4 linked regions of the Homo sapiens genome follow. The protein of the gene in region 2 interacts with the protein of the main gene of each other region in a pairwise test. Each region holds a gene or a part of one and is shown on either strand. Other genes may lie near its edges. The genes, in order: RAPGEF2, KIF5A, KCNE3 and DSCAM.

Region 1 (4,496 bases), on a different chromosome or scaffold from region 2:
TCTCGCTTTGTTGCCTAGACTGGTCATGAAGTCCTGGGCAGAAGTGATCCTCCTGCTTCAGCCTCCCAAAGTGCTGGGATTACAGGTGTGAACCACTGCACCTGGTCCATTGGTGATAATTTGAAATTCAAGTTGCATAAAATTATAATGGGATGCGCCTCAGATATAAATGGACTATCCGAAATAATGATATGATAACCTTCTAGAAATAAAAACTCTGATTTTGCTTGATTCATATGAAAACTTAATGAGAAAAAAAGTATTCCTTCTTTGTAAATTTTATATGGAAGTAACTTTGGCCAGGAGTGGTGACACATACCTGTAATCCCAGCACTTTGGGAGGCTGAGGTGGGAGGATCTCTTGAAGCCCAGGTGTTCAAGACCAGCCTGGGCATCATAGCAAGGCCCCGTTTCTATTTAAAAGAAAGGTAAATTTGATTTAGACTTAGGAGATATGGAAACCACTGAAAATCGTTGGTCCTTGATAATCCGTATTTTATGGGGTATTCCTTCTCTTCACTCCATTTTTGGTAACAATTTCCTCGTCGGTAAAATGGATAATAGCTGTCTGAGGTTTTGTGGATTAAGTGAAAGTACATTATTTAGTGTAATGCCTAATGTTAGTCCTCTTTATAGCATATTTTATACAATTTCTATTATTTAACAGGCCTTGGGAATTCAAAGATGAAATGTGTGTCCCTCAAGTAACTCACTAATCTATTGTTATAAGTAGATTGTAATTCATGAGTGCTGTAACAGCTATCCTATGACAGCACTGAAGAGGATGTGGACTTCCTAGATGAATATGTATTGAGTTGTAGGGGAGTAAGAATTCACCTACCAGTGAACTAGTGGACCTGAAGTGGTATTCCAGATTGACCTACTGTCATATGAGTAGCACACCTGGTAAGACAACATGTGCAGCTCTTTGTTCAGTGTGCTGGGAACCAGGGGACTGAGGAGGGGGTAAGGAATGATTACTGGCATTTAGAAGCTCATGGTTTGTGAGGGTAGTGAGGAGACCAAGAGTTCTGTTAAAGACTGATGTTCATTTTCCTGGCTTGAGATGGCTGGGAAGCTGAATTACACAGTGGTGATGGATTAGAAATATTGCAGGAGTAGAATCTGCTGGACAGGCTGGCTGAATGTGTGCACGTTTTATATCTCATTATAGTAAAACTGTGTTTGAATCATACCAGTGCAGCCTAATTATGGCACAGGATGATCATGGATATTTCATAGTTCATAGGAAAAAATCCAAGTTGTTGAATATAGTTTTCTTGATTTTTAAGGTTTCTCACACTATTTTTTTCCCTTAAACATTAATGTCTTCTACTACATGTACATTCTGGGAATCTAGTTTGAAATATCTGGTTAATCATATAGTTAAACTAGGCCAGGTGCTGTGGCTCATGCCTCTAATCCTAGCACTTTAGGAGGCTGAGGCGGGTGGATCACTTGAGGTCAGGAGTTCAACACCAGCCTGGCCAACATAGTGAAACCCTATCTCTACTAAAAATACAAAAAATTAGCCAGGTGCCTGTATTCCCAGCTACTCGGGGAGACTGAGACAGGAGAATCACTTGAACCCTGGAGGCAGAGGTTGCAGTGAGCCGAGATTGTGCCATTGCACTCCAGCCTGGGTAACAAGAGCGAAACCCCATCTCAAAAAAACAAAACCCAAAACACCATCATGTAGTTGTACTAAATATATTTCTTAATCTGTAATGATAATGTGATTTCCAAGCATTTCATCATTTGGAAGAGTTGGAGAACTTCTGAATTTAAGCAGGCAAAAATGAACTTATTTATATAAAAACTCAAAATTGACTTGTGACGACACAATGTAATGATGGCATTGAGTCTTTGAGAACAGTTTTTTACTCCTTTATACCATTTTTTGTTTAGATAAATTAATTGATGTTGGTAAATTAGGAGAAGCAATCTGTAGTACATATAATTGATCTTGTAACTTTATCAGAGCTAGAATATATATTTATGTATTTATATAGTTAAAACTATGTTCAAGTGATTATGTCAGTCATTGTAGGAAGAAAAATAAGTTTATTGCCGCATTATTTTGACTTCTAGAATTTTTATCTTTTCAGGAAAAAAAAAAACCACCCTTGTTTTCACATGCAAAATCGCCACTACCTACTGAATTTTAAGAAGCGTGTGTTTCTTGCTGTATTCAGCTGTTTCCTTTTTCCCTCCAGTCTGTGAAAGAATTTACCCTTGGTGCGGTGGTGGTGGGTTTATTGGTTTTTGTGGAGGAAACAACTTGGTCCTTGGATTTTAAGTTGTCCTGGCTCCACCTCTTCTGTGCTTTCATATCCATTATGTATAAGAAGTGTTTTGGGAGAGTTAGTGTCAGTGACTTGAAGAGGAACTTTGTTTTGTCATTGGAACTAAACTTGTCTTCCGCTGGCTGTTGTTTCTCATTGCTTGCCTTCCACAGGTTGAAAATAATGGACTGTGGAGCTTTAGAATTAAAATAAGTGAATAAAAATGTACATTTCGCTGCCATTTGCAGTTTAGTTGACAAACCGACACAGTGTAATATCTGCCCCTTGGCACCTTTCTGTTCTTCTCTAGCTCATGGTATTTGTTTTCACCCAACATAAAAACGGAGAAGAAAGGTAGAGAACACTGAACGAGAATTAATCATTAGGTCATTCTGGGGAGGTCTGATAGTAACTTTCTTAGAAGCCAACAATCAGTGGATCTGAGAGGTTTATGGTACTATGGTGATTATCTGATTTCTCCTGAAAATTCATTCTAGAGTTAAGACTCATTATCTTTTAAAATGTATTTTATTTTTTAATGACCAGTCTTCAGTGGAATCATTATCTTTCTTAAACTTTTTAGCTTAAGATAAATGTAGATTCACATACAATTGTAGGAAATAATGGGGAGAGATCCTGTGTGTACCCTTTAACCGGTTTCTCCCATTAGTAATAGCTTATAAAACTGTAGTGTAATATCACAATCAGGATATTGACATCAGTGCAATCAAGAAACAAAGCAATTCCAGCACCACAAATGGTTCTTGTTGGACTTTTATAGCCACAGTCACTCCCCCACCCCACCTCTGGGGATCACTAATCTGTTCCATTTCTATAACTTTGTCATTTCAAAAATGTTATTAATTGGAATCGTACAGTATATGGCCTTTGGAGATTGACTCCCCTCCCCCTGCGCAGCATCATTAAGGCTTATTACCTTTTGGTTAAAATGAATTTCTGTTGTTAGTGAATAGTTTGGCCTTGTGCTTCTAAAATACCAATAATGTCTGAGGATTGGGGGGTTGGTGGTAAAAGGTGAGATGGGTTTAATAGTGACAATGAAGAGAAAGTTCTGTGATAATGCGTATAAATATAGAGCAAAGAGCATAAGGTCTTGGATGAGCAAGAGTTGTGATAGCATACCACATTTGGGAGATTTTGATATATGTATTTCCTTTTCATATTTTTTTTTTGTCATAATGGAAGTAGTAAGGTTAGCCTTAGCCTTCATATTCTCCAACTGAAATTTAAAAAATAAAATCAGAAGGAAGTCTAATGACTGTATATACAAAAGGGAGTCCCAATGGCCAAATTTGGGACAGTTTGAGAAGCAAATCATGACAGTAACGGACTATAACCCCTAGGGAAGAAAGTATCCATGAGCCCATACTGATATAAGTAAGTAGTTGAATAAATAAATAAAAGCAGGAGAAGAGACACCTCTTTGTTATAGAATTCTAATTAGAAAATGAAGGAATGATGGAAATAGAAAATCACCAGCAGGTAAACACCATAGTAGCAATTGTTACAGGCAGGAATCATCAATGGATGCCAAAATTAGTGGGTGAAGGTATGATGAAAAATATCATCATAGATCAGTATCATCAGGATATTTGCATAGTCTCAAAATATCTCCCCCACAAAATTAATTAACTATAAAGGAAAAAATCAATACTTAATAGTGAAGAAAACTGGTAATATCAAATTAACCAGATCATCAAAGTTAATATCATTAGTAATAAGACATGTCAACATCATGTGTCTGCTGATATAATGTATTGAGAAAGAGATATCTCTGGTATTCTTAACTAAAAATCAACCTAAGTGGAGCAAATATCAGATAGACTCAAATTTAAGGACATTTTACAAAATAACTGGCCAGTATTCCCTGAAAGTATTGAGGGTGTGGAAGATGAAGAAATGCCCAAGAACTGCCACACATTGGAAGAAACTAAGGACATGTGATAACCAAATGTAATGTAGGATTCTGGAATTGATCCTGGACAAGAACAACAACAAAAAAACATTATTAGGATGACTGATGAAATTTGAATATTTAGATAACTTTACCACAATTATTGTAGATGCTAAATTACGGGAAGCTGGGTAAACAGGGGATCTTTGACCCGTTTTTTAAATAACCTTTTTTACTCTAAAATTATTTAAAAATTCAAAGTTAAAAAAAGGAAGCATAGCTTTTGAAGTTTTTTT
Region 2 (4,041 bases):
CCTTCCTACGGGGCGGGCTCTGCCTGTCTATATGTGTATGTCAGGGGCTCCTGAATTCCAGCTTCTGCTCCTGCTCTGCACTGCACCTGCCATGCACAGATTCTCCTCAATGCCACAGCCACCAAACTGCTACTGTGCCCTTGCTGCCCCACCCTTTGCATGCCCACAAAGCCCTCTCTGGGGAAGCGGGTCCCTCATCCCCATGGCCGCCCTGGGGCTATTGATCTGGCACATGCTGGGAGATGTGGGGGAAACCAGATGGAGACAGGACAAGGCGCTCTCACAAGAGTTCTGGGCTGCAGTGGAGATGGCAGGTTTTACTGCCTAGAAAATTATATAACTTTTAAATGCCTGACCACCCACCCTTCGCTCTGGGAGAAGGAATGAGCTGGACAGAACAGTCCATTACATAAAGGCAATGAGGCCTTTTGAGGAAATGACATGGTCTCCATCTTCTCTGACTCCTGATTTTTCTTTATTCTCTCTCCTCACCCCTGTCCCCTACGCTCCTCTGGGTGACCGTCTTGGGTCACTTGCCTTCCTTTCCACTTCTTCCCTTTGGCTTGCCCCATAGCTGGTACGTGACAATGCAGATCTGCGTTGTGAGCTTCCTAAATTGGAAAAACGACTTAGGGCTACGGCTGAGAGAGTTAAGGCCCTGGAGGGTGCACTGAAGGAGGCCAAGGAGGGCGCCATGAAGGACAAGCGCCGGTACCAGCAGGAGGTGGACCGCATCAAGGAGGCCGTTCGCTACAAGAGCTCGGGCAAACGGGGCCATTCTGCCCAGATTGGTGAGTAGGTGTTAGCAGGCAAGGTGGGAGTATCTCCTGAAGCAAATTTAGCAAATTGCTAATTGCCAAGCAACTAGATTATTGCTTCTTACCTACCCCTAGCCTCATCCCACTTCCCCCCAAAAAGTAAAAAAGTGATTATGTTACAAGCAACTCAGTTCAACCCCAGCTAAATGACCTCAGGGACCAGGGCAAATGCAGGGTCATAGCCTCCTCATGGTTGTTTTCTTTCTTTATTGCAGCCAAACCCGTCCGGCCTGGCCACTACCCAGCATCCTCACCCACCAACCCCTATGGCACCCGGAGCCCTGAGTGCATCAGTTACACCAACAGCCTCTTCCAGAACTACCAGAATCTCTACCTGCAGGCCACACCCAGCTCCACCTCAGATATGTAGTGAGTGACCACACGTGTGGGTTGGAGTCCCACCCAAAGCTCCCTGGACCCTAGAAGGCATAGGGTGGGGGCAGTTATTGGTTGTGGCTTAATTATTTTCCTAAACCCTTTCTCAACTTCATGCCTATGATTAGAAGGTAGGTGTCTGCCCTCCCAGCCTGTGGCCATGTTTGTTTTCCTCTGCTCTCTGGGGATGGGGAGGGCTGAGCAGCTCTATCACTGAGGATGAGTGTGGATTAGTGGTCCTCAGACTAGTGGAGGGTGGGTGTCAGAGGCTGCCTCTTTCCTCTGCTCCATCCAGCTTTGCAAACTCCTGTACCAGCAGTGGAGCCACATCTTCTGGCGGCCCCTTGGCTTCCTACCAGAAGGCCAACATGGACAATGGTGAGTGAAAAAGATGGGTAATCCCACCTTTGGGGTCCTCAGGGCAAGTTGAGAGGCATAAAAGTAAGTGACCTTAGTGTACAAAAAACACTGACTGAACCTTTCTGGTGTGCCAAGGCTTCAAATAAAAAAAAAAATACATATAGCCAGGTGTGGTGGCATGCACCTGTAGTCCTAGCTACTTGGGAGGTTGAGATAGGAGGATTGCTTGAGCTCAGGAGCTTAAGGCTGAAGTGCACTGTGAATACACCTGTGAATAGCCACTGCACTCAGCCTGGGCAGCATAGTAAAGCCCCATCTCTAAAATAATAATAATAACACATATGAAGAAAAAAGTGACCCTGTACCTACAGCCTGAGCACTGCCCAGCCCTTTAGGTCTCAGGCTGCCTGGGAGTGGATTCCTCCTATTACCACGCCAATCCCAGCCCTTGCCTTCCAGTTCCCTTTTCCTCTCCTTGGTGAGGGGCTGCAGAAACTTTTTCTCGAACAAAATAATGATGTAGCTTGGGATAACTAAGGAGAAAGTGTCACAGCTTATCTTTTTCTCTAAGGGATTAAGATGGGAGAGGGTTTGCGCAAACTGTTTCTAACACCCAATCTCCTTTTTTCTTCTTCTAATCCTGTGTTCTCAATGATGATCTCTTCAGGAAATGCCACAGATATCAATGACAATAGGTACAACAGTCCCCACTACCCCTGGGTTCTCTGGGTGGGACCAGAAGAAATGATTAAATTTCCCTTGTGCCCCACTTGGAGGTTCCTGGAGCCTTTGGGGAAGGGGGAGGGAGTGAGACTCATTCTTTTCATCACTGTGTTGTCCAGGAGATCCAGTCATTCCCCTGCCTCAGTGCAGAATATCTCCCCTCCTCCAATCCCATCTGTGGCTTCTCCCTATTCCAGTGATAAGGTCTGGACGAAAACAACGTGGGCATCTGACGACTGGGTTTCTCTCCTACCTTTGGAAGCCTTGTGACATTGGACAAGTCATTTACATCCCTCTGGCCTTGAGTTTCCCTGTATTCCTGTAAAACACAAATAGTCCCTGCCGTTTGTGATCTCACAGGGACACTCTCAGAGCAGAGTAACCATGATGACAGGAATACTTTAATTTCTATGGAGCTGATCATGGTGGGTCTCTTCCTCCAGGAGTGACCTGCCGTGTGGCTATGAGGCTGAGGACCAGGCCAAGCTTTTCCCTCTCCACCAAGAGACAGCAGCCAGCTAATCTCCCACACCCACGGCTGCATACCTGCACTTTCAGGTAGCGTCAGGCTGCTTCCTCGGACCAGCCTCAGGTTGCTTCCCTTCTTGCTGACAGCCTCTTTGGTTTTCCTGCTGCTGCTTCTTTTTTTTTTTATCACCTCAAAACTTTAATTATGTAGTTACCCCTCAACTCCTGCTTTCCCCTGTTGGGGGCTACACCTGTGCTGCCCCATGTAATCTGGACGTTGACCTCCCGTGCCCCCTTTTGCTTTCCGTTAGGCTACAGTGGTAACCACAGTACTGTCTTTTTGCCACTAGGGGTCACTGTCACATGTCCAAAGAAGTGAGCTTGGCCGCTGTAGATTAGAACCACAGGGGTGGTAGACTGCAGATCTATCAGGAGACCCTAGGGGGCCATCTCAACCCCACCTCTTCCTCCACCCTGAAATAATTTTGGATGGATAGGTGTTTTTGGAACTAAGACATCTCCAGTTAAGGCGATGTTTGCTTCACGCCTGCACCTGTGTCCCATCCTCTTCCCATCTGTATATGCCACCAGTAAGCTTTAGGAAACGCCCCACGAAATCAGTCAGCGCTCCCCTCCCATCTTGCTCAGTGGAGGTGGCAAAGCCCCTCTTTTTCCTCCTCTGTCCCCAGGTGCTCTCCTCTAGCAGCACAGGAACCTTCTTTGTTCTTGTGTGTCACTGGGTTTCTCACCAAGGTTGCTTTAGGGCCCAGAAGTGGCACAGAGAACATGGCCAGTCTCTTACTGGGCTGCATCTAAGCTGAGCCCTCTCCAGGGGTTTCCCAGAATAGTAAACCAGGCACACACAGGCAGAAAAGTCTGAGAAGCAGAGAAGTAGGAATGCAGAAGAGGAGTTGGGGAGACCTAGGGGTGGAGGTGCAAGCCTGGGTCACGGGGGGCGGTGGTAGGGGGGTCTGCTTGTTGGTATTAAAGGAACAGGACAGTAAACCAAAGTGTGTGCAGATGCCACCTGTTCCTGTTCTGTGACTGAGCTACAAGCTGGGCCCTCACACCCTCTTTCTCTTTCTTTCCCAGTTTCTAAGAGGGACTGAGGCCTCTTCTCAGCATGCTGCAAACCTGTGGTCTCTGATACTAACTCCCTCCCCAACCCCTGTTGTTGGACTGTACTATGTTTGATGTCTTCTCTTACTTACTCTGTATCTCTTTGTACTCTGTATCTATATATCAAAAGCTGCTGCTATGTCTCTCTTCTGTCTTATTCTCAAGTATCTACTGATGT
Region 3 (5,157 bases), on a different chromosome or scaffold from region 2:
GGAAGTTGGGGAATAAAGCTGTGATCTGAGGGATGAACTGGGGATCTTAGTGGGGTTTTCATTCAGGTTGCTCTGGGGAAAAGTGAAACTCTACCCTTGGGTCTTTCTTTCCCGTCACTCCGTTTCAGCTACTCTTTCAGAATGAGCGTCTTCAGTGTCTGGAAATGAAGTACAGAGAGGTAGGTAGAAAAAGTCACATAAAGCAGGTAGGTGATCCAAAGACAGTTCCTGGGGTGCACAGTTTTACCACTGTCCCCTTGGTGGTCTTACCACTCCTGTGGATTGGAGAGCTGGTGGAGTGGGAGAGGAGTTGAAGGAGTAGCCCTTAGCATCCAGTTGGAAGGACAAAGGAATAGAATCTGAGCTGGAAGAGATCTTCATGATCATGTTGTTGGTGCAACCCCCTCATTCAACCAGTGGGAAAATAGACCCTCCTCCCCAAGGGAATCACCTGCTTAAGGTCTCACAGCTCAGTAGTGGCAGAGTTGGAGCCAGAAACCAAGTATCTTGACTTCCCCTCCACAGACCTTTCCACTATAAGTTCCCTTCTGCCAGTAGGGCAGACTCTAAACTCTTCTGATTACCACTGAAGCTCCTTGAAATGTGACTCTGACACTGGCCTCATCTCCCCACAGCTCTTTTCAGTGGCCTGCACCCATGACACTGAAGTACAGGCCACTCTCCAAATATTCCTTGCACTTGCACATCTCTTGCCTTTGCTCATGCTGTTTTCTTAAACAAGAATGCCCTTCCTCTTTTTACCTGCCTGGCAAACTCCTACTCATCCTTCAAGACCCAACTCCAATTCATCTCTGCAGACCTTCTCCTGGGACTCCTCCTTCCTCACTCCCTAGCCAGTTAGTCTCTCCCTCTTGTTTTTTCCCAAAAGTGCTTTGCACGAAGGCTTATTAGAGCACTATACTGTACTGAAACTCTGTGTGTGTGTGTGTGTGTGTGTATGTGTGTGTGTGTATGTGTATGTGTGTAACTGTGCGCTTTAAGGTAAGAGGGCAGGGTCCTGTGCCTCATACATTTCTTTATTTCCCAGCCCTGATACCTAGCAGGCATTCAAGAATAAATGAATCAATGCCTCTTCTCTAAGAGCATTCCCCCGCTCTGGCACACGCACATACATTCATGAAAACAGTTTACAATATTTAAAAAGCAACCTCCAGGGCAGGGCAAAACAGATTTCATTTGGTCTGGGGAAGGGATGGCTCAAAGAAAAGAAGCCATCTCAGTCAGGTGGGGTGAGTCAGAGGAGGAAGAATTCTAAGCCTTCTTTGGAAGCCCAGATGCTCCCTGCACCTGGACCCCATTCAATCCAAAGGGCAAACATTCTTGGCCTCAAAACACCAGCAATGGCTTTGCAACCCTCTTCCCTGTGTACCTACCCAGGGTGTGGCCACATACACCCACCCACTGCACACACACACACAGTCCAACTCCCCAGTCCCTCAGCCTGTGATCTTGCCGTTCAAGTGTTCCTTTCATGATTCTAATCTTGGCTGTATGCTTGGCTCTGTGTCCTTGAGCACTGCATTTACTTCCTCTGAACCTCATCTATAAGATGGGGATAATGATCCCTGCCCTGCCTACCACACATGAGAACTAGAGGAGACAAGAGATGGGAATGTTTTAGAAATTGCAAACATACAAGATAATTATCAGGCAGGCTGGTCACACTGTTTTCCTTTTCTGTCTCCACATCTTTCCTTTCCCCCCATATTACCAAGAACAACCATCTCTGTGTCTCCTTTCCCACTCCAGGTCTCCTAGCCTCAGAAGCAGCCAGGAGGTTCTTATTATTCTTCTTGATTCCCAGGAACCTCACCTTCTCCAGAAGCCTTCCTGTTTCCTACCCTCTATGATCATTCCCGCAGTCCCTTATCATTGAGGGGTACCATTCTGTAGTCCTGTAGCTGGTGGAGAACACATCAGAGGGGGAATCAGGAGACCTGGGTTCCTGCCCCTACTAGGCCAACACGTCTAGCCGTGCGTTTTGGTTAAGTAACTTTATCACTCTAAGTCTATATCCCTCTAGGCCTCATTTTCCTCATCAGTAAGATGGAGTTTCTTGTCTTGCTTCCCTCTTAGAAGGTATTTTGAGCACTCGCACATTAAGTTTATGGATGTGCTTTGAGACGTATAGACTGAGTGAGGGATGGAGAAGGTGATGGTTATCATCTCAAGGAGTCAAGAAAATCTGAAAGCAGCTTCTAGGCCCCCAGCATGGGTCTTCCTCCATCAGGAACAGACAAAGTGGACGGATGCAAGGAAATAAGGAGGAGCTCACACGTTTACAACATGCCTTTGTAGGTGAAGTGGAGAGAGCCCTGGGCTAGGACTGAGGAAACTTGGGTTCTAATTCTGTTTGGTCTCTGTTGTAACCTTAGGTAAATCATCTCCCCTGGGGCATCAGTTTCCCTATATGCAAATTAGTGGAGAGGATTTTAGGAGGGATACTCTGGTGGGCTTTCACGCAAGAACTAAACTCATTTATTTTCGAGATAAGAGACTCTGAGGTCCAATCCCCCTTTCCCCTTCTGTCCCATGGGGTATGCAGGCAACAGGAGCAGGAGGCCCGTTTTACAAATGGTGGCCCAGGAAAAGCGAGCACAAGGCGCAGAGCTGAGGGATGACTGCCCGGGTTTACACAGCCTGTAAACTAGAACTCAAGTCTCCCGACTCCCAGCCTCGACCTATGTTACTGGCAGCAGAAGATGCTTTTGGGAGTCACCAGGTTTCCCGGGACTAGGTCAGACAGGGTGAAGGACACAGTGAGGTGTAGAGGGAATGGGCAAGTCAGCTCCGCAGAGCCGGTGGCTCCAGCCAAATGAGACTGTGCTGGGTCCTGAAATGTCGTTTCTGCGTGTGCACTGGCTGCCAGCTGCAAGTGTTCGCTTGCACGTCTGTGGGTGTGGAGGAACTTTTCTTGTGGCCGTCTTGAGGGCTGGGAATAACGGCGCAAGTCCCCACGGTTTCCAGACGGGGCGCGCAGAGCCCAGCTCCCTACTCCCACATGCTGCTCCACGATCACTGCGCTCGGGAGGATCGGGGAGGATCCGGGAGGACTAGCTTGGTATTTGCAGCGCCCACCCCTCCCCCACTCCCCCTCGGTTCCACAGTCTCACGGAGAGCGCGCCGTGGCCCTTGGAAGGGAGGCGGGAAGACCCCTCATTTCCACCCCAGGCCGCAGCTCAGCCTTCCCAGCTGGGTGGGTGCCTTACCTGCCTCTCAGCAAGGCTCCGGGGCGCCCGTTTGCTCGCTGGACACGGCGCCCTCTGACCGAGGGTGGCCCAAGCGCTGCGACCCTGTGCATTCCACCAGCCCCGTTCCACTCCGCGGGTGCCCAGCACCGCCCAGCGCGCTCTCTGGCTCTGGGCTCCCACCCGCGCTCGGCTCCCTTTTCCCTCCCCCGGGCGTCCCCTCCCCCTGCCCCGCCCGGGCCCCAGCACACCCACTTCTCCCCGGGCTGGCCTGGAGTGCCTCCGCCCAGCTCCTTGGCCTCCCCCGGCTGTGGGCTCCGACCCTTCCGTCCCCTGCAGCGCCTGCTTCCTGGACCAGAGACCGAAAGCCTCTCGCTCCGCTGGGCCTCAGCAAGCCCAGCATGAGGCCGATCTCCAGGAGTCGGTTTTGCTCCAGTGTGGCTGTGTGGTGGTGGGCGAGTCGCTGCCCCTCACTGGGCCTTGGCCTGGCTGTAAAGTTGGTACAGTTCCTCCATGCATTCTTCACAGGCTTATGGTTGAGGTCAGATGAGACCTTTGAGTCCAAAGTATTAAAACCAAAGGGTCAACAGCAAAATAATATGATTCTTACACAAACTCTTTTCCACACAGGACGCAGAGGCCCAGTTGGAGAAGGGATTTGCCCAGGTAGCAGAGCCCAGACCCAAAATCCACTACACACCCCTCTGTCTCTGAGTAGCACCAGCAAATGTTTCCTCCACCAAGCCTCAAAAGTTCGTGACAGTGCCTGACCAACTTGTGTTCAGCCGCACCTTACTCATCTCTGTCCCAGAACAGTTTATTTTCCCACCACCATGCCCTCACTCAAACTGTTGTTTCCTTGCTGGTGACATTGCAGGCTTCAGAGAACTGGGGCAGCCGGGGCAGCTGAGGAATAAGAGCCAGGAGGCTAGTGGCAGAGGAAGGGACAGTTGCAGAGAATTTCTCCGGGGGACCCTGTGGGGTGCCCTTTTACCAGCTCACTGCCTCAGAATAATTAATAACAGCCTCAGGCCAGCTCTTTCACTCCCTTGCAAAGGTCTGCTCCAGGATATCTGAAGCACATACTCTCAATTACAGAATCCCAGAATATATCTAAGAAGTGCTATCGTTTTAAAAAGACCTACTACAAGGTGGGTATATTGTATATTGTATACAATATACAAGGTGGGTATATTGTACCCACCTTGTTTTGACCCTACTATTCCTTTTTCTCAGTCTGGAGATCACCTCTCAGAAAAGTCATCCTAATCACCTAAGCATGCAATCTCAGTTTCCTTCCTTCCTTCCTTTCTTTCTTCCTTCCTTCCTTCCTTCCTTCCTTCCTTCCTTCCTTTAGACAGGATCTCACTGTGTCACCCAGGCTGGAGTGCAGTGGAGTGATTATGGCTCACAGCAGCCTTGAACTCCTGGGCTCAGGTGATCCTCCTCCCTTAACCTCCTGAGTAACTGGGACACACCACTATGTCTGGCTAATTTTTGTATTTTATAGAAATTGGGTTACTCCATGTTGCCCAGGCTGATCTCGAACTCCTGGGCTCAAGTGACCTGCACACCTCCACCTCCCAAAGTTCTGGGATTACAGGCATGAACCACTGTGCCCATCCTGCAACCTCAGTTTTCAATCTGCCTAAGAATCCCCTGGGGAGCTTGTTTTACTAAGTAGACTTTTGGGCTCCACTCCAGAGGTTCTAATTCAGGAAATCTGGAGTAGAGCCTAGAAATCAGCATTTTCAAACAAGATTTCCAAATGACTCTGATGCAAATGGTTCTTGAGACTAGCCATGAGGAAGCAGTCCTGGCTTGGTCAGGGTTCTTTCTCAGATCCTGCCCACGGCCTTGCATTTACTCTGTAGGACTGTCTATGACAGTTATAGAAAGTAACCATTTGTCCACCCCATCTGCTAGGTTGTGAGTTCTTTGAAGATAG
Region 4 (4,496 bases), on a different chromosome or scaffold from region 2:
TTGTACTGTTTACCGATGCATACTGTGAGTTGGTTTTTTAAAAATGCCAGATTCACTTACAGACACTTGACGAAGCAGGAAACATAACAGTTTTATTACATCTTTACCCTAAAGCTCACGTTATTTTTAATGTTCTATGTCCTGTGTAATAAAATGGGAAGAAGGCACAGTGTTTCCTCCACCTCCTGAGCAGCACGGCTATTTTCAAGCAGAGTATGTCTGTGCTTGCTTGAGTTGCAAATTCGACCAGCTGCTTTTCTTCATGGAATTCCATTTCTTTCTTAAAAGAATGGCTACCTAAAAACGATGGTTATGCGGTCTTTTCTATTTGTCAAACAATTTCTTACAGATAAATGAGCCCATCACTCCTACAATTACAATTGATGGTGTTTATTATAAATAATAAAATTGAATCTTTCAAGAAAGAATAGAATTTTAGAAAACTTGCATCCATCAGCATGAACTTGACAGTTTACTTGAAGACTTTCTGATGAGATCATGGTAATGTTAGTAGTTGTGATATTTTGATATTGTATAACAAATTGTATCAACATTTGGAAGATCTGTGTAACACAGTGAACCAATCATTTCCAAATGATCAACTTTTTATGTTACAAAATCATGTGTGGGTAAAACATTCCTTCCAAGGGTATGATAGACCAATGAATTTTAAGATGACAGAGTACAGAAAATGTGTTGATATGGCATCTGACTATTGCAATGAACCATTAAGATACTGCCATGTTTTAATTCTCTGCATAGTATGGAGTACCATTAGGTGTTTTCTGGTTTATTCACTTGTTTTATTTGTTTATTGTTTGTCTCTCCTGACTGAGAAGAGAGTCAATGAAGGAAAGGACCTTGCAGACCTTTTTCATTGTTGTATTCCTCAGTGTCTAGAGTAGTGCCTGGCATGAAGCAGATGTTCTGTAAATGAGGATTAAATAAATAAACACAACCACCAAATGAACCTTTATGCAGCCTGGTTTACCAAGAATATCTAGTGATTTGAGGAAATTCTCAAGACATATGGTTATTAAAAACCGATTTATAATTATGTGCAGGCATATCTAATATACAATGCACAATACATATTCTATAATATATAATGTAATGCAATATATATGCCCCGTAATAATAGTATACACATATTATTATTTCCATGTGTGTGTGTCTGTATGCGTTCTCACAAAAGTAAAACTCACAGGGTTGGTGGGAAAAGAAGCTTGGGGAAGACCACAGGAAACCTATGCAACTTTGTAACAAGGGCAACTAAAAGCCACTTATTGGTTCCTGGAGAGAGAACTTGGACACCTCAGACAGGCAGCTCAATGTGGCTAGAAGCAACACCCACAGGTTTCGGAAATAGTTTTATAACATATTAGTTCTATTCCTAGGACCCACCTCAGGTAGATTCCTTACATAATTAAAACAATTTTATTTCATATTCAGCTCAGGAAACTGACTTGTAGAATAGAAGAAATGAGTCTTTCTGAGGCTCTGCCACTAAAAGTCTGCGTATCCTTGGATGAGTCTGATCACCTTATTGTTTTTTTCTGGTAAGGAGATTGTAGTCAATTCAAATTGCAGGATCTCTAAAGATCATCCTGACAGGTAGATTCCATGACAGTCCATGTCATGATGCAAAGAATAATTTAATGAGGAAAACGTTCTGTGGCATCCTTTAAACATATAATTTCTATGTTGTTGCTTTGACCTGCTCATCTACAGAAGATAAGACGTTTGTTTGAAATCCTCATCCAATACAGAAAATCCCTTCCAGTGAAGTTCTAAGAGACCTTGCTTTTAGGAGGTTTTAGGAAAAGAAGGTTATTTATTTAAAAATTATCTGAGAGATGACTAGATAATGAAGCTAATGATGTGCTCCTTTTTTTTCTGTTGTATTGTTAACAACACATGCCCTCTGGAAAACCAAGCCAAAATTCCACCTGGAGAGAAAATCAGATCAACTAAAGTTCCTGTGAAGATTCAGTCAGTAGTAAAGAGGACATCTCATGTTCCCTGTCATTCTTCAGCCTGTACAATTATCCTGCTCTAAATAAGCAGATCTTGGATTACCCGACTTCAAATCATTGGTCTGGGAAGTAGTCGGGCTATGGAATGAGTTGTGTGGGAACCAGGAGAACAGGGCTTACCTTTCACGGTCACGTGGACGCTCTGGCTGGTGGAGAGTTGTGGTTGAACCAACACGTTGCACGTGTACTCCCCCTCGTCCACTTCCTTTTGCACATCTGAAAGTTTAAGAGTTCCATTGTTCTCAAATGCCACTTGGCGGTGGTTGAAAGGAAGCAGGTTAGAGTTCTTGTACCATTTAATGGAGTAATACGGATAGCCAATCACACGACAGTGAATGTATGTGTCCCGTCCTGCTATTGCTGTGATGTTTTTCATTGGTCGAATGCTTGCAGGCCCTGGAGAGACACAAAGAAACTCTTGAAAATAATTTAAGGGTACATCTCATGTAGGGAAATGGGTACACTTTTCCTTGAGTTAAAAATGTAGATTATATTCATGTAAGCACATCTTTTTCAGTTAAACAAATATTTTTGCATGTGGCATTTTCTACAACAAAGGTTTTTCTTTCCTTTTCTTAAATTCAAATGTATAACTGTGAAACACTTTATCTGCTACTTCTATGAAAATGTTTTGAATTAAAAATTACAAGATAAAAGGCAATTTAATTAATAGAAAGTAACTAGTCTATACTGGACAATCACGCACTTTTGGTGAACACACTGGCAGCAATTGATCAATTGTTTAACTCTCTCTGTAAAATCTAGGACGACAATGGAGGTTACATCACGTTGCAGCATGAATGTAAGTTTAATACCATGTACATGAAGGTTTACCATGAATGTGGAAGAACCGAAGAGAAGGAGAAGGGAAAGGGCATGCAGAGCATAAACCAGGAAAGGAAACATCAGGTGAACAGATCTAGAGTAAAAAAGAACAAGCTGACTACAGAAACCAAAATGCCATTTCCAACATTAACCCAGTCAGTGCCATTCCTGAGTAGGAAGGAGAGGGTAGGAAATGGGAAGCAACAGTTAATCCGCTCTGGCATTCCAAGACCCAGCTCGGTGCATGCAGAAATCTTCTTCTCCACTATAATGAGTTATGTGTGTTTTTTTGAGGAGCTGATTTGACAAGCACCTCTTACGTTTATTCGAGCCTGGTACAGGACGACTCCCGCCGAGTTGTTGGCAGTGCAGCGGTAGACTCCCCCGTCCCGGACCTGGGAGCTGGAGATGTTCAGGTAGCTGACCACGTTCCCCTCCGACGTGATCATCTGGCTGATGCGGTGACTGCCACCCTTGAGAATCGGGTCATCGTCCAGGGTCCACGTGATCGTGGGCAAAGGTGTTCCCTTCACGTTGCACATAAGGGAAACCGGCTCTGCTGGACTCACCACCTTTTCACTAAAGGCAGAAATAATTTTGGGAGTTCCATCTGCAGGAAAACAAATTATGGAAGAAAGTGGCACATACAAATAATTAAACAACTTCCAAGTATATGTCTTTCATGTCTAGGGGGTAAATGTCGTAGTTGTTAAACATTACCAAAAAGGTCTGGTTTTCCTGATAAAGCAAAACGTTAATCAGAACAAGAGTTCACTGTTTTCAAAACAGGTAAGCACAGTGTTAGCAAGCTTTCATCAACTGTTTCTATATTTCCTGATTGACTTAAGAGGAATGGTAATACAACTCAGATGTTCAGGTTAAACAATGACAGCTCCTAAGAAGTCCTTAATTTAAAACTGGTGTTTCCTCACACAAAGTTATAAACAGACGGAAAATCCACACCCGCTCACTCCCACAAACAGTCACTTTATCTGTTAGGTTGGTGCAAAAGTGATTGCAAAAAGTAATGGCAAAAACAGCAATTACTTTTGCACCAACCTAATACTTCCTCAAGTTATTTGGGGTTTTCTCACTAGGGAATTCTTTACAGGAATAAAGGAAACTACTGAGAGATTGATGACCTCATCTTCATCATTTTCTCATAAGAAATCCTCTTTTAATAACTTTAATTACAAATAGTAATTGCATGCAAACTTCCATGAAGTCTCTGAGAATGGGTAGAAGCTAAATAAAGTTTGTATTAAATGCCGTGTATTAAAAACCTCTAAAGATATCTTAAGTAGGGTACTTAAGCATGTTTTAAATCTCTCTAAAAGTATCTTAAGTAGGCTGGCCATATAATTTAACATCCAACCTGGGACACTTTTGAGGCTGAAACAGAAAGGACTAATAATTATGCCAAGAGAACAGGCATGACCCAGAACTATCGCAGGCAAACTAGGATCTTAATCTTAGAGAAGTCTCCATAGAAATTTTCAGTATGTTTACATAGATCAAATTTTCATATTCCATTATTTTTCTATCATCCATATGGTTTTTTCTCTTATATAGTAATAGTTACAAATGCATGTTTCTTTTATATATGTTTTTCCATTTATAAAAAGAAATACATGC

Evidence for each region.
Region 1: the proteins of KIF5A (region 2) and RAPGEF2 interact in a two-hybrid assay, tested with the Homo sapiens proteins (one large-scale study listed by BioGRID and IntAct).
Region 3: the proteins of KIF5A (region 2) and KCNE3 interact in a two-hybrid assay, tested with the Homo sapiens proteins (one large-scale study listed by BioGRID and IntAct).
Region 4: the proteins of KIF5A (region 2) and DSCAM interact in a two-hybrid assay, tested with the Homo sapiens proteins (one large-scale study listed by BioGRID and IntAct).

What each region holds. Positions count from the first base shown.
Region 1 is NC_000004.12:159,108,912-159,113,407, forward strand, and holds part of RAPGEF2 (rap guanine nucleotide exchange factor 2), read left to right. Parts: intron 1-4,496. UniProt on the Homo sapiens protein: Functions as a guanine nucleotide exchange factor (GEF), which activates Rap and Ras family of small GTPases by exchanging bound GDP for free GTP in a cAMP-dependent manner.
Region 2 is NC_000012.12:57,580,382-57,584,422, forward strand, and holds part of KIF5A (kinesin heavy chain isoform 5A), read left to right. Parts: intron 1-574; coding exon 575-791; intron 792-1,033; coding exon 1,034-1,187; intron 1,188-1,488; coding exon 1,489-1,571; intron 1,572-2,220; coding exon 2,221-2,248; intron 2,249-2,719; coding exon 2,720-2,798; 3' UTR 2,799-2,834; intron 2,835-3,836; 3' UTR 3,837-4,041. UniProt on the Homo sapiens protein: Microtubule-dependent motor required for slow axonal transport of neurofilament proteins (NFH, NFM and NFL). Can induce formation of neurite-like membrane protrusions in non-neuronal cells in a ZFYVE27-dependent manner.
Region 3 is NC_000011.10:74,464,168-74,469,324, forward strand, and holds the start of KCNE3 (potassium voltage-gated channel subfamily E member 3), read right to left. Parts: upstream 3,383-5,157; 5' UTR 3,323-3,382; coding exon of another isoform or gene 3,231-3,322; intron 3,155-3,230; exon of another isoform or gene 95-3,154; intron 1-94. UniProt on the Homo sapiens protein: Ancillary protein that functions as a regulatory subunit of the voltage-gated potassium (Kv) channel complex composed of pore-forming and potassium-conducting alpha subunits and of regulatory beta subunits.
Region 4 is NC_000021.9:40,335,945-40,340,440, forward strand, and holds part of DSCAM (cell adhesion molecule DSCAM isoform CHD2-42 precursor), read right to left. Parts: intron 3,472-4,496; coding exon 3,175-3,471; intron 2,433-3,174; coding exon 2,157-2,432; intron 1-2,156. UniProt on the Homo sapiens protein: Cell adhesion molecule that plays a role in neuronal self-avoidance. Promotes repulsion between specific neuronal processes of either the same cell or the same subtype of cells.